Linked DNA regions of Homo sapiens: region 2 is linked to region 1. A link means that fine-mapping ties the variant in region 1 to the expression of a gene that starts in the linked region. Tissue or cell type: whole blood. Region 1 holds a variant in brackets; the other region holds the start of a gene. All regions are shown on one strand. Distances are from middle to middle.

Region 1 (8,107 bases):
AGCAACCTTATTTTTTGAAAACTTTATATATCCTTGCCCTCTACCCTTCTACCTCTGTGGCCACTTATTTCTGTATCCTTCAATGGTCATACCTCTTCATATCCTAAATGTTGGGTACATTCCAAAGCTTTGGAGGGTGCACATATTCCCATGGATTCCCAAATCTGTGTCTCCAGCCTTCACTCTCCTAAGCATCAAAATCATATTTCTAGCTGACTTCTGGTAATTCTAGTTGAATGTTGTATCATCAACAAAAATTCAGTATGTTAAAATAAGCATTTCTTTTCCAGTTTTTATAAACCTCAATATTCTATAGGTAAACTATTCTAGCAATGTTAAACCCTTTTTAGAATGATATGGTTATAAGTTTCTTTTTAATTTTAATGCTAAAAAATATAATAGCAAAGACTCCTGAAATAACAACTGTACATGCTAACCAAACTAATGTGCAGTTGGAAATCTCAAGCTTTCTAATCACAGTAAAAACATGAATTTGTGTCAAAAACCAAAGCAGGCTATTGACATGATCACAGTTAAAATATCATAAAAAGAGCCCAGTCTATAAACTTTCCGAAAAAACTTCAAAATCTACTATTCGTTCTTGTACCACTATTAAAAACTACTGAATAAGGTCAACACAGACTACAATGTTCCCTTACATCTTATTCAACCTTCAGTACCTACCTCAAGACAATAAAAAATACCTAATTCTACTCTTGACCAGGGGATAGCAACCCTTAAGGTATGATGGAACAATTCTGGCAAGTAACTGATAGAGGGTCTCCCTTATTAGTTCCCAAATATCTTGCCCACCATTCCCAGAATCCTGTATACTTTTTCATAAGTTCTCATTTCCATCTAGAAGGTAGGGATAAAATGTGAATCTTAATTGCAGTTACTCTAAGAGACATGTAAATATTGCTCCTATATAGATTTAACTCACTGACAAACATCTTTTTTAACAAAGCAGGGAATGGCTTGTTGGCTAGGTGAGAGAACATATAAACAAATAGATATTGAAGTAAGAGATTAAATAAATACATACATAAATAATTCATCTTATTAAATAACTTACAGACCAAATAAGAATACAATTCATCCCTAAACTCTCCTATTGTTTCTTTTTTTACATATGAATTTATGATTTGTATATAGAAACAAATGTATCACATTTATCAGGATTATCCCCCATTTACAACAGGGCTATTTGGAATAATCAAAATATTATAAACTCCATTAATACCTTACCTTTTTAAAAATATCTTCTCTTTGAGATTTTTTCATGATGGTCCTTTTATTTCAACTTTCTAAATAAATAAGAAATATTATTGAGAATGACATATCATAAGAAAACTGACTTGTGATACTTGAGGTTAAAAGTATGCTTTTTAAATTTTTTAATTTAACAAGAAACAAAACAGATATACTATCACTTTTACTATTTCATATTTGTATTTGGTCACCTTCAGTATTTAATAGAAATCCCGGTTAATGCAATAAGATGTGCAAAAGAAGGAAGTAAGAGGTGTAACTCTTGGAAGAGGAAAACAAAATTATCATTGTTTGTAGATGATAGGTTTTTATACATGAAAAACCCAAAAGACTAAATAAAGTTTAGACATAATTAGAAAATTGGAATTGGCAGAATACAAGAGAATATATGTAAAAGTCAGTATCTTCCCTACATGCTAATGTACTAGAAAAAAATCACTTTCACAAAAAGGGTACTGAAAAAAACTTCAAGATACTAAGGAATTATTTTAATTAAAATATGTATGAATTCCCTTCCCCCCAAAAGTATAAAACTTTGCAGTAAGAAAAAAAAGGATCTGATTAAATATACATTTGATCTTAGCCAAAAGGCCAAGAGGCAATGATTAAATATAGATATTCTATGGAGGCAGGGAAATTGATTAAAAGGCTACTAATAGATACTAGAGATCTATTTGGATGTTTGTCTCCTCCAAATCTCATGTTGAAATGTGATTCCCAATAATGGACATGTGGCCAGGTGGGAAGTGATTGGATTGTGGGGGTGGATACCTCATGGTTGGCTTAGCACCATCCCCTTCATGATGAGTTCTTGCTCAGTTAGTTCACATGAGATCTAGTTGTTTAAAAGAGTCTGTCTAGGACCTCCCCCCTCCTTCCTTTATTTCCTCTCTTGCCATGTGACATGCTGGCTCCCCTTCCCTTCCACCATGATTGTAAGCTCCCTGATGCCCTCACCAGAAGCAGATGTTAGAGCCATGCTTATATAGCCTGCAGAACTGTGAGCCAATTAAAACTCTTTTCTTTATAAATTACCCAGTATTCTTCTATTGCAACGCAAGAATGGCCTAATACAAGAGTATCATTCAACATGACGGTTAAATGCAAGTTCATGCAATTCCCCAGACATTTGTAGAAACTAGAATGCCACACAAGTTTTTGTTTATCTGTTTGTTTTTTAGAGACAGGGTCTCACTCTTTCACCCAGGCTGAAGTGCAGTGGCATGATGACAGCTCATTACAGCCTTGAACTCCTGGGCTCAAGTGATCCACCTGCTTCCACCTCTTGAGTAGCTAGGACTACAGGCATGTGTCTCTAAGGCTCGGCTAATTATTATTATTGTTATTATTAGGTACAGACAGGGTCTCGCTGTGTTGCTCAGGCTGGTCTCAAACTCTTGGCCTCAAGCAATCCTCCTGCCTCAGCCTCTCAAAGCATTGGAATTATAGGCATGAGCCACTGCGCTTTGCCTAAACAAATTTCTAAATCAATTCTGCGGGCACAAGACTATGTGGATCCCTGAATCAGCACAGACTTCTTTTTGGCACAATTTTCAGTCACCTTGGTTACTTCTGTCACAGGCCATTTGGTTTCAGGAGTGCTAGCAAAATAAAACCACAGAAAAACCTCTAGCATGTGGAAATGGTTACACAATGCATATCTTAGTATATAGTAACATATCTTTAATTGTGATCCAATCAGAAAATTGGTTCCCTTTAATCTTCCCCTGGCTCTTGTTAGAAATATTTCTAAATGTATTAATGCACTTTCCTTCCTTAGCAGATCTGAATTCAGACCAAAATCCAATTTTATCTTTATCTCAGTTCATCTATTGTCACATAGTATGATGACACCTTTCTGAACTCTCTTATAGCAATGTTTCCTAAATGATGCCTTCCAGACTTAATTTGAATTAGGATGCTATGTCCAGAATTAAGGTCTCATTCACAGTTATGATGTAATTAAGGCAACAATAGCATTTTGTAAAAATAATCTATTAAATATATAGCACCAGCTACCCTTTATTGTTATTAGGATATGGAAGAAGTGGAATTTAACTTAACAATTCTTTACTTAGTTAAGAGGAATATAGCAGTATTTCACAGTGTTCTACAAAAAACATTATGACTTCCATGTATTGCATTAACTGGCAAGTTTAAAAATTAACTTAACTGTTATCTTGTTTTCCAAAATCAAAACTTAGGAACAAACGGCGTGACAAAAGATTTTCTGATCTGTGAATTTATTTAAGTCTTCGAAAGGCAACAAAACTAAATCACCCACTGCTCTGAGGACCAGTTCCCAAGTCATCATGTCCTGCTCCTGTAGATCAAGAAAGATTTGGGCCCACTTCTCTATCTTGGGACTTCTGGTACATGAAAACTAATGTGGAAACAGGTTACAAAAACTATCATATTATATTTTGAAAATTTACATCTAACACACACCATGCAACGTAGTTTTGCTACTCAAAGGTGAATTACAAGATTTATAAAAATGTATTAATTCTTAGAGCAACCACTGGCCAGGAGGCCCAGAAGCTCTAAACAAGTACTGTAATGTTTTTTATTCAAACCTGAAGATGTATCTCTGTGTCTATACTTATAGCCTCAATTAGAGAGAAAGTCAACCAGGAGGCCCTTTCTGAAAGTGAAGCCAAAAAACTCTCACATCACTTCCCCATCTAAGCCGCAGTGACCACTCTCCAACATTGACCACTCTCCAACATAACCCCTCAACTATAGCTGGATGGAGTTCTTGTTTATTCTCCCTGGCATCTCCAACCTTTAATTTTTACAACTTCCCCGCAAATGGATAGCATTCCGTGTTTCTAAGGCTGATTCAAACTCCACGTCTTTCAGGAAGTTTTTTCTAACTCTGTCTCTTGATCTCCAACAGCATTTGTAGTTCATAATGCGAATTTTTGTTCATTACATTCTACCTTCCAAGTTCATCTTCCTGCTTATCCTAATGTGAAGATCAGGACTAAGGCAAGGTGTTCAGCACACACAGTAGGCACTGAATTAATAATATGCCGACCCGTATTTCTTGCAAATCAAACACTGCTCTCGAGTGATTTTCAATTCTACTCATTCCCAAATTGGCTAACAAACCGGTCGGCCAGGCCCCCGAACTACAAGTCCCAGCGGCCTGCGCGGCCCCGGCTCCGGTTATCCCAGCCCAGCTAGTTCTGCCCATGCAGCAGAGCTCCACAAAAGTGCGGGAATGTCTGACAGGGAAGAATCAGAGAAACCTTCACCAGCAGCCCGACATTCACCTGGACGGACAGTGCACTTTTCTTACGTCTGGGCAGGGAAGGCAGGGCGCACCATCTACCGCAGGCTAGGATGATCACCAACCGCCCCACCGCACCCTGCGCCAGCCCTAC[G/C]GCGCCCGCGGGCTGCAAGTAGCGGCGACCCAGGAGCATGCGCGCTGCCGCCCCTGGCCTGCCAGGACCCAGAGGGAGCGGAGCACGCGCCTTTGGGAATCTTCGGTGCGCCAAGTCTGTTCGCCGCCGGGGTCTATCACCCCCGCCCCTCGCCTCTGCCCGTGAGCGTGTGAGTTGTAGCGTACCCTGGGGTCTGTTCTGGAGGAGGCCTGAGAGCGGGGTTGCCTGGGGCGTGGGTCTCTCATCCCTCTCGTCCTGGTGAAGAAGAAGAGTATACCCAGCGGGTGAGTACCGGCCGCGAGCTCCCGGCTGAGCGGGCGTCCCCGGGGAGGACGCTGCGGGGCGCCGTTGTGGCAAGAGCGGTCGCCCGCGCAGGGCGTGGAGGCGCGAGGCCGGGGGACGCCAGCCGGCAAGTTGCACGGGTTGCAGCGCCCCGGGACCTACTTTCTCTTTGCCGTCGTCCCTGCCTTGCTAGGAAAAGAGGGGAGCTTTGACTTCAGGTGATTTCCTTTGTGGCTTACAAAAGAGCCCCCTAAATATGCAAGCGGTTCCTTTTATTTCCAGAGCTTGCTGTTAGCGTACTAATGTACTATGTTTAAAGTCTTAAATAGGGCATGCCAGACACGCTCACCCATGTGTCGTCATTCATCGCTTAATAAACAGAGTACGGCTCTCATTGTTTTTCTTTTTCCCATTGCCTCGCTCCGAGTTAAAATAACGAGATAAACTAAACGTGATGCGGTTGGGAACTTGTTCAGGGAAACCGGCTGGGGCGAACTTCGGAAACTTGCTAGTGTAGAGAGCCGCACGGTGGTGGTTTGTATGCTTTCACTCATTCAGGCTTTCCACAGTGTTTAACTGCGTTCTGTGTCAGGCATTATGCCCCAACAGTCGTCTTGTGTAAGACTTCCATGCATTTTTAAGCTTTGCTTTTATTTTCTAAATGTACATGTTAATAGAGAATAAACATTATTGACCTCTTTATTCTGATATTAATTGCCTAAGTTTCGTAGGATTGTCTTTATTTTTTAATAGTATGGTGACCAAAAGTAATACTAGTGTTTAACCTTAGTAAGCAAAATAGAGTCCCAGTGTCTCTGACAGCTTGGCACAGTTTCATTTGAGACCGTAAATCCCACCCTGTCTATAGTCTCTGTCATACTTGGTAACAACCCAGATAATTTATCCCTTCTCGCAGCCTCATTCCCACACCTTCTCCATCTGCTGATCGTCTCACTATCTGCCTTCTTCTGGAAACTGTAAACTCTTTTTCTAGACTCCTCATATGTAAACCCCTCTATATCTTTTTTTAAATTTATATATATATATATTTTATCATACTTTAAGTTCCAGGGTACATGCGCACAACGTGCAGGTTTGTTACATATGTATACATGTGCCATGTTGGTGTGCTGCACCCATTAACTCGTCATTTACATTAGGTATATCTCCTAATGCTATCCCTCCCCCTCCCCCCATTCCACAACAGGCCCTGGTGTGTGATGTTCCCCTTCCTGTGTCCAGGTGTTCTCATTGTTCAATTCTCATATGAAATACTATGCAGCCATAAAAAATGATGAGTTCATGTCATTTGTAGGGACATGGATGAAGCTGGAAACCATCATTCTCAGCAAAGTATCGCAAGGACAAAAAACCAAACACCACATGTTCTCACCCCTCTATGTCTTTATATCTTCTTGTTCACAAAACATTCCTCCTTGTGATATTGGGTACCTGGCTGTCTCCTGAAGACACTGCTTTCCCAGCAATTCACCACAGCGAAAGCCATGCCTGCTGGAGACACTGCTTTCCCAGCAATTCACCACAGCGAAAGCCGTGCCTGCCCGCGCCCCCCGCCCCCCAGAGGTGGTATCTGTATTCGCCATCTCCTCATGGCCATTGCTAGGCCATTCCATCCCACCCCAGGACCCAGAGCTGGTATCTGTATTCGCCATCTCCTCATGGCCATTGCTACGCCATTCCATTCCACCCTTGTAAAACTTACCAGAAACCCTTCTCTAATGAGCCCTTTTCCCTCTCCTCACTGTTATTTACCAGCTGCCTGGTCACTCATGTTCATTAAGGAATTTAGTACCCAACTCAAGTCTTTTTTTTTTTTTTTTTTTTGAGACGGAGTCTCTGTCAGCCCAGTTTGGAGTGCAGTGGTGTGATCTCAACTTACTGCAACCTCTGCCTCCCGGGTTCAGGCGATTCTCCTGCCTCAGCCTCCCGAGTAGCTGGGACTACAGGCGTGCACCACCACGCCCAGCTAATTGTATTTTTAGGAGAGACCGGATTTCACCATGTTGGCCAGGCTGGTCTTGAATTCCTGACCGCAGGTGATCCACCCGCCTCGGCATCCCAAAGTGCTGGGATTACAGGCATGAGCCACTGTGCCTGGCCAGTCTTTCTTTCATACTCAATTGCTACAAGGTTCTGGGGGGACTAAAGCAGTCATGTGTATCACAGGTCCAGCACCCCATATTCCCTTAACTTACTGCCATGACTGACTGACTGCAGGACCATAATATCTAAGACTGTTCCATATTAACAATCACGAACTCTAGTATTCTCTTCTCATCTTCCTGTTTCTTTCATCTCTTCCTCTGCCTTATTCTTCTATACTTAATCCCTGATCTCATGAAGACGCTGTCCCTTGATGACTATTTTGTCATCATCAGCCTCTACCTACATTGACTTTCTTCCTTGTCTAGCCCACACTCCTTGTTTTATTATTTACCCACATCAGTATCCACAATTTCTTTGCCTTTTGTGTTTCTTCCACTTTTGTCCAGCATACCTATTCTAGTTTAGTCTAGCCATTTGCTTTCTCTCCTCATATAGAAAGGTAATTGTATTAGTGAAAATCATGTAACCAGATTATTGCCATGATGATATGGCATGGTCCATAATGTAGCTCAGCCATTCTTTTCCTTTCTCACCCACAGCTACTATTCTAACTTTTATCGTTCCTTAAACCTACTCTACTTTTGACCTTGTACTTTCAGCAGCTGGCTTGGCTTTTTCAGAGGAAACAGAGACTCTCAGACATGAATACTGTGACACTGACCACCAGGCCAACTTAACATCAGCAGATATCCTGTCTCAGATGAAGAGGTATGTTTGATTTATTTCTTTTTTTTTTTTCTATCTACAGATGATCCAATATATGTCCTAGATCCCATTCATTCTGTCTCCTCTGGGGCCTTATTTCATCATTTAACCCTCCCTTTTTATCTTCAGTATACCCTTTCCCCACCTCCCTCCCCTGGCTTTATCTGCCCTATCCAACAAAACAAAAACAAAAAGAAAAACCATCAACTGGGATTATTCTCAGATTTCTTCTCTCTCTCCTTTTTTACAGCCACATTTAGAGAAAAAGGTAATCTTTTTTTCCCTTCCCTTACTTGTTAACTCTTCTACCCACAGAGTTCTGGCTTCCGCCA
Region 2 (8,107 bases), 180 kb before region 1:
GTTTAAATAAACTTATTTTGAAAATTTCTATTACTTCCTCATAGCTGAACATAATTCCAACTATTATACCCCTTAAGGAATTAAAAAAACAGCTATACCTCCTGGAAGGATCAAGTGGATGCTAAAGGAAGCTCAAATCTATGTCTGTCTTTTTTTTGTTTTGTTTTGTTTAACAGCAATTCATTCTTAATATACTGGCCTTTTAAGCTGGAGTCTTACAACTACTTGAGTTCATATTTGTAAAAAAGATGTAAGAGGATATATTCTCTGATTAGCCAATCCTGTGTTAACTTTAAAAAAAATCAAATTTCATAAATAGAAGCAGTAACATATCCCTTATCAGAATAGTTCCACTGTTTACTAAGTCCCTGTAGCTAAGTACAAGCCCCAGGGCTTAGCCCAAGTCCTGATCACTATGTACACAGAGTCTGTTGTGGGTTTCCTCATGAGTTCAGTAGTGTGAACATTAGCGTGTGACATCCTCTGCTCTGCAGAACACAAAAATAACAGGGTCCTCTGGGTATCCAACTTTCCTTGACAAGATTAAAGTAATGTCTAAAGAGCTCTAAAAGTGTCACAAACGATCTATAGACATCATATTTACATTTGTTCATAAAGATACAGGGCTGCAAAGTCACCATAGCATAACTTCTCCTTAAGAGTGTGAGACATAAACACAGACCTAATGTTCTCATGACCGCCCCTACCCAAAAAAGGTATCTCTGTGTTGCAGAGTCACACTCTGTGATGGATTGAACGTTTGTGTGCCCGTCAAATTCATATGGTAAAGCCCTAACCCCCGCTGTGGCTATATCTGGAGATGGGGCCTCTAAGGAAGTAATTAAGATGAAATGAGGTCATAAGGGTGGGTCCCTGATCTGACAGAATTAGTGTCTTATAAGAAGATACACCAGAAAGTTCTCTCTCTTTCTCTTCCACGCCTCTTCATCTCGAGTATGTACCGAGGAAAGGCCATATGAGGATATTGTGAGAAGGCAGCCAGCTGCAACCCAGGAAGAATGCCCCTCACCAGAAAGCAAATTGGTCAAAACCCTGGTTTTGAACTTTGAGCTTCCAGGACAGTGAGAAAATAAATCTCTGTGTGTAAGCCACTCAGTCTATGGTATTTTGGCTGTGTCAACAGACTAATACACACTCCAAAAAAAGAGTGTGTAGAAATTTTTGTTTCAGCGTCATTTTCAAATTGTCCTCTGCTAAAATCTACTTTAATCCCGGCATGGTCATAAGCTGGTTTTACACTCTAGACCTGCTTGAAACTTAAACTTGGCTCACTCTCACGGGTGATTTTTAGGTTCGTTGGATGCTGCAACTCCTATGACACACAGAATGATCAAACATGGATTCCTGGGACTTGGGACTTTTGGTACTAAAGCAGGGAAAGTCCAAGGGCACTGGACAAGTTGGTCACTCTAGATAGGCAATACATTCTGTTCCTCCAGCTATTGCTCCATCTACAGCTATGGCTTCTCTAACAATCCATACCATACAGATTCTCTCCATACACAAGAGTCAAAAAGGTCTCAGGCCAACTTTCTCTTTTTTTCACGTGGCCCACATCTGCTGCACGAGAAACACTCAGGCATCATTTGCCTTGACAAACTACGGCAGTGACTACAGATCCCAACATAGCAACTTTCCTTCACTCCTATGCCAAAATTCTCACTGGCCCATCTCTCCTACCCCTGGGATTTCCCAGATGTGAGTCACGATACTACTGTACCTCTCAAAACCCAGGAAATGCATGTCAAGTTCTCTGAGTATTGCTATTGAAGCCCCCTTCACTAGACTTGAAGGTGACTGGGGAAGCATATAACAATGGCTCTCCCCAAAACTTCTCCTCATAAACTCATCTCTTTCAACATCTTCTTTTAACCCATGAAACTGGTGAAAGGTTCCAATAGCGGCAAAACCAGTTCTTGGACTGTGGCTGCCAATACAGGGAGCAAAACTGATCAAGGGCTCTAGATGCTTGCTGCACTCTGAATTCCCTGGCCACATTTTCACCCATGGGCTGCTCCAGCCGGTGACTGAGAGCAGCACAGATAATAAGGCAGGCTGGCTCCTGAAAGAAGGACTCCTCTGACAGGTGATTTTGGCTTGAGGATTTCCAATAGCCTTTCTAAATCTTGCTTAGACTGTTTGGCAGTCCAGGAAACTTCCACCACCCTTCCCTCTCTCTCTGCTTTACTCAATTTCAGACTTGCAGCCTCTCCCAGTCTTGCTTGGCTCCCGCCCATTCTCTCTCACAGGTGTTTCCTCTAATAAAATTGTTGCACATTTAATCCCATCATAACAACTTCTCATCAGAGCCAGACTAATGTAAAGACATTTCTTTGGAAAACATGCATCTTGTCAGCACCTCACTTTGGCGTTTCATAGTTGTTGCTTTATAATGCTGCAGGCAAAACTTCCAGTTTATAGTTATACTACTAACCACAGGATGAATGAATGACATGGTAAGATAAAAAAACAGGAAAAATGATGGGATTTTACTTTACATTTCTTGTTGTTCAACCCCTCCATTTTTGTTAAAATATATGTCTAATTTGAATGCGCATCAAGATGAATTTTTAGTAAGACTTATCACTGTGGGTGCTGAGTATGTGAGCAGGAACATCATAGATGCTAATTTACCTTTTAGTAGGCAACCAGGCCTGTGCCAGGACTTGGATAAGAAGGCTGTTACATGCTACCCTGGAGTTCCAAAGTAACCCCAATATCACCATCTGTCTTTGTTCCTCCACATTTTCTTCTTCCCGTGATCCCTTCTCATTTTTCCTTTCTATCTTCTTTTACTTGTTTTGTCACTGCTTTAGAAGTCACTAATAAGCAATAGTGGGAAGTAGAGTATGTGAATAAAGAATGAAGCTTTCTTTGGCAGTCTGAAATAAATTGCTTAAAACTGTACCCCAAAGCAGCCAGAATAAAAATAGCTTTTTATATTTGTTCTCCACCATTTCAAGTATCCAAACGCCCCACATGACTTGACCCCTGCAACTTTGTTTTAGGGAAGACTTTTGGTGGTAGCATACTCTCATACGAAAGTGTGTGAAAAACATCAATTTGCTTTTTTACTTTTCCTGTGAGGATTATAGAACCAAAACAAAATATCGAAAATTTTGAGAATACACTGACTCACAAAAATCCAATGCTTTTCTAGTCAAACAGGATTTCTCTACGTGATTTGTATCAAGGACGGTCATTTATCAAAATGTGACAACATGCCTTTGCCGTCATTATAACAGCAGGCAATTAAAAATGTTTTTACCATAGCCAGTTTGCTTATTTTTCTATTTTAAAAGGGTTTTATAGCAGATATGCAAAAGAGAAAGCAGAGAGAAAAAAATAAAATCACTCTCTATTCAAACACTATCACTGTTAATTTTGATGTATTTCTTGTGTTTTTCTAGGCATAATTTGTTTTTACAAAAACATAGCCTTAGTGGCTAGTCCCACTTTATTATGTGAGTACTGGTCAATGCAGAAAGAAGACTAAACAAACTACAGATTGGTTTTCAGTCATATTCTAAAGAAACAGAAGCCAAACAAACACTTGGTCTGGTGGAAAGTCCAAGATTATGGTCCTTGGCCCTCTGTTAAGGCCAGCTAGAGTATCTGGTGATGGTGAGAGGCCTCCAACTGTCTTAGTCCTGGATTTAAAAGGGCCTAAACGGAGCTAAAATGTTCCCCAGAGCCTAGCAATCATTGACAGTTTCCTCAGGTAACCAGCGCTGCAGACGGAGAATGCTGCAAAGGCAAGGTGTCAGAAACCAATTGAAATCCGAGGTTCAGCCAAGGGGACCCAGGCACACACGTGGGCCTTGTGTTCACCATAAAGAGCATACTGGCTACAAGTTGGCCCCTCTCTGGGCAACAGAGTGCCTAACTTAAAGGGGCTTACGAGGATGCCATGCGCCAACAGCTCTGGTTTTACAAAATGGAGTCACCAGGGAGAACGCGGTGTCTGGGTTAGACCACGTTCACCAAGTACCAGCTATACGATCTCGGACAAATTTACTTGCCCTCTCTTAACCTTAGTTTCCCCATATATAAAATGTAAGTGATACATTTCTGACTGCTGGGATTGTAAGGAAGGGATTAAATGGCTTGCCAATGAGGTGTTCAGCACAATGCCTGCCTAACACGTAAAACGTGTTGGGGTTGGTTGGTTGTAAGACCCACAACCTCTCTCCCCACTCTACCCCCGCCCCGCCACCAGCAGCCCAGCTGCAGCCGCTTCCGGGAACCACTTCGCTTCGGTCTCCCACTGCCGAACGCGGATCCCTCCGCGTTGCGTCACTTCCGGGAGACTCTGGCCGCGGCGATTCAATATATCCGGAAGCAACTGTCATGGCTGCTGTCAGTGAGGGCCCGTAATGGAGATCGAGTCAAGGGTTGCCCAGGGACACTTAAGAGCCTTCGGCTTCAAGGAGGCCTCTCAAAGGACAAAGGATGAGACTGCCTGGCGGCAGAGTGCCCCCCACAATCGTAGGAACTGTGTCGCCGCGCTTCCCGTTAACTTGCCGCTAAGTTTTTCTAGAAAAGTCGCCCTTCTTGCCAGGGTGGGACCTCACTTCTGACCTAGCCCTTCTTTGTGTACCAAGTTTTTGTTTCCGTCATTTCCCGCAGCCCGGGAGCTCGGCGGGCGATACTGTGGTAGCCTGGGAGGAAGGGGCGGGCCGGATGCTGGAACCGAGAGAGGTGGGGCTCGTCGAGGAGTCACGGGCGGCCGAGGCTGGAGTCTCCTAAATGCAACCTTGAGCTGTTCCACCCTTTGGTGCTTGGTCTGTTAGCTCGAGGTGCTCCTCACCGTGGAGGCGTTTAGAGCTGGTCATAAGGCTCTTACCTGCTGACCCAACCACCCTCAACCACAGCTTGCCCTGCTCCAGATAGACTTTGATCCTAGAAAATATCTAAGATGGGTGTAGTGCAGTATGTTATTGTTTTAAGTCTCAAACATAAGCAAACTATTATTAAAAGTTTTAGAATTAATAGGCAGAGTTCACATATTGGGTCGTGTTATTGTTTTAAGGTTTAAATTTAGATAACATGTTAGTACTTGTTGAGATTTTAACAAAAGCATTAAAAAAATGAGAAAATAGATTAATCTTTAGAATATTTTAAGTTTGCTACTGCGCAGTGGTAACATGAAGACACCTCATAATAAGTCTTTGATTACCAGAAGCTTCTGAAAGTAAAATTATGGGTATATTAATGTGAGTTTTCCTCTCTGCAGGGTGTCCTATAGACTTTGTCATGGAGTGAAACAGAAACAAATGTGAGTTAATCATTAACATTTCCTAGTGGTTAAAATTACTTTTTAAGCGCTTAACTGTGTATTTTTTAGATTGAAGATTTCAAATGAAATTTTGATTTGACTGAAATATTTAATATGTGATGAGTTGATATTAAAATACAGAAGATTACTATTTTTATAGAAACAATAATGTAGAAACTAATATTTGAAGCAGGTTTACTCCACATACTGTGTTATAATTTAAATTTTCACTTAAACTCTCAAAATCAGAAGAGCTGACCTAGTAAGGCTTAAACCTCTAAAACTTGTGGTTTTAACAAGGCTTAATATACGTAGTTATAATAGTTTTTAAAAAAATTGTTATCAAGTTCCTCAGGTGATTCTGATATAGTATTTTAAAGAAAGCAAAGAGAAATGATCTGTTTATACATTTTAAATATTTTGTTCCTTATTTATGTATTGAGACTGTGCTTATAAATGCATTCACACGCATTGAAGTACATAATTTGATCGTCATGCCAGCCTGGAATCTTGCTTTTTGTATGGTTTCTTGCAGGTAGGTCTATTGGGTTCTTGGCATAGTACCTGGACAAAACATTGTTAAGGTGGAAATTTTCATTGTATTTATCACTTCAAACACTTGACCAGTTTATTTAGTTTTCAAGCGCTTTAGACAACTATATGTGGGCTTGACTTAGTGTATAATAAATGTAAAGTTTGATCTCAAGTAGTTGACATTTATGGAGTATTTACCATATGCCAATCTTTGTGATAATTGCTAGACATATTTTATTTAATGCTTACAGCAGTACTGTGAGTTAGGTTTGTTAAATCCCTGTTTTAATAGATGGAGAAACTGAGGCAAGGACGGATTAAGTTACAAATCCGTCTTTGTAACTTAGAGCCATCTTCTTACCTACTTGTTTTGTATGACACCCTTTTCCTCCATATAACTGAACACTGGTAGAAGAGTGAATGACTGTAGAAAACAGACCTGGACTCTATTCTACCTGTCCAGCTTTGTAAACTAGGGCAAGTTGTGTGACCACTCTGAATTTCATTTTCCTCACCTATAATAAATGAAAACTTTGAACTATTATGTTTTATTGAATCTTGAATCATCAGAAATCCTTAAGGCTGGGTGTGGTGCTTCACGCCTGTAATCCCACCACTTTGGGAGGCCCAGATGGGAGGATTGCTTGAGGCCAGGAGTTTGAGACCAGCCTGGTCAGTCAGCATAGCGATATCCCATCTCTACCACAAAAAAAAAAAAAAAAATTCCTTAAAATGGTGCCTTTACCATCAAACCTGGGATTTTCTTCCAAGCCCCTAGTGCTCATTCTGAGTTTTGAAGTTTTGATGCACGGCAGTGCCAACTCCATCTCCATTGCCGTCTAGTCTGATTACATTGTAAGATGTGACTGATTTCAGAGATGTCAAAATGTAAAATAATGTGCATCTTGGAACTAATGAGCTCTTTTTCAACCCTGACTCTGTAACATCTGTGACTTTTTAACATTTTATTGCAGGATTAAGTATTTTTGAATGTAAATGATTCAAGATAACACATAGACTTCGTTTGATGACATCTGCAAAATAAATTTTTAAAAAATTTGGGCTTCATGATAATGGAAAAGTAGAAACTATGTTTGTCTTTATCACCTGTGAATCCCCCATATTGAGAACATGCCTGGCACATAGTGAGTGTTCAGTAATCATTTACTCAATGAAGTAAACAAGTCTTCATTTCTTTTTTCTTTGTTTGAGACAATCTCACTCTGTTGCTCATGCTGGAGTGCAGTGACGCTATCTTGGCTCACTGCAACCTCTGCCTCCAAGGCTCAAGTGATCCTCCCGCCTCAGCCTCCCAAGTAGCTAGGACTACAGGCACACACCACCGCACCAGTTAATTTTTGAATTTTTTTGTAGAGACAGGGTCTTACCATATTTCCCAGGCTGGTCTTGAACTTCTGGGCTCAAGCCATCTGCCTGCCTCAGCTTCCAAAGTTCTAGGATTACAGGCATCAGCCACTGTGCCCTGCCACGTCTTCATTTCATATTACAAATACAATATTAAAAAATTGTGTTTGACTTGAATTAGACATAAAATACACAGTCATGCATCGCTTAATGACAGGGATACATTCTGAGAAATGTGTTGGGTGATTTTGTTATTGTGCGTGTACTTACATAAATCTACATGGTATGGGCTACTACATATCTGTATGGTATGGCGTATTGCTCCTAGGTTACAAACCTGTATAGCATGTTACTGTACTGGATACCATAGGTGGTTGTAACACAATGGTATTTGCATATGTAAACATGTCTAGACATAGAAAAGGTACAGTAAAAATATTATAACTTTATGGGACCGTCAGTGAAATGTCATTATGTAGCACATGACTGCAATAGTATTAATAGTGTAAAACTATTTTGCACTGAAATTTTTTGCATTCAGAAGTTCACTGTTGTAAACTGTCTTTCTTTCCAAATATCTTTTCTTCTGCTGATTATTGCTGATTGTCATCAAGTATGGGGTATATTTTGTTCCTCGAAGAGTTATAGTAAAAATTGAAATGCTGGCTTATAGACTTTCCAACAAAGAATCTGATTTATTTTTAAAGTGGCCAAAGTATAGGAACATTATTTAATTTTTAGAAATCTTGATTGTAAAAAAAGTTTTAAAAATGTGATTTGATAGCTTATTTAATTTTTGTGAGTATTCTGGAGGTGATTAGGCATACTATCTTTCCTAGTATACAAATAATATTGAATATTTCTGAGTTATGAACAATAAAAATAAACTACAATTGAAATTATGTCATA

What was found. PIP is the estimated chance that this variant, and not a neighbour inherited with it, causes the effect.
Region 2: it holds the start of ENTPD1-AS1, and the variant in region 1 is fine-mapped to the expression of ENTPD1-AS1 in whole blood (INTERVAL, PIP above 0.99). The same link has a PIP of 0.9 or more in CD4 T cells and blood mononuclear cells.

Annotation. Positions count from the first base shown.
Region 1 is chr10:95,904,501-95,912,607 of GRCh38, reverse strand. It overlaps CC2D2B (coiled-coil and C2 domain containing 2B), which reads right to left and starts at 4,633. Exons shown (of 35, transcript NM_001349008.3): 1 at 4,551-4,633; 2 at 1,249-1,307. The coding sequence starts at 1,284. All of the region lies in intron 2 of ENTPD1-AS1 (ENTPD1 antisense RNA 1), which reads left to right. RefSeq lists enhancers at 4,317-4,376, 4,417-4,606. The variant G/C (reference allele first, on the strand shown) is at 4,662.
Region 2 is chr10:96,086,458-96,094,564 of GRCh38, reverse strand. ENTPD1-AS1 (ENTPD1 antisense RNA 1) reads left to right here and starts at 4,330. Exons shown (of 6, transcript NR_038444.1): 1 at 4,330-4,583; 2 at 5,258-5,299. RefSeq lists enhancers at 4,181-4,230, 4,241-4,610.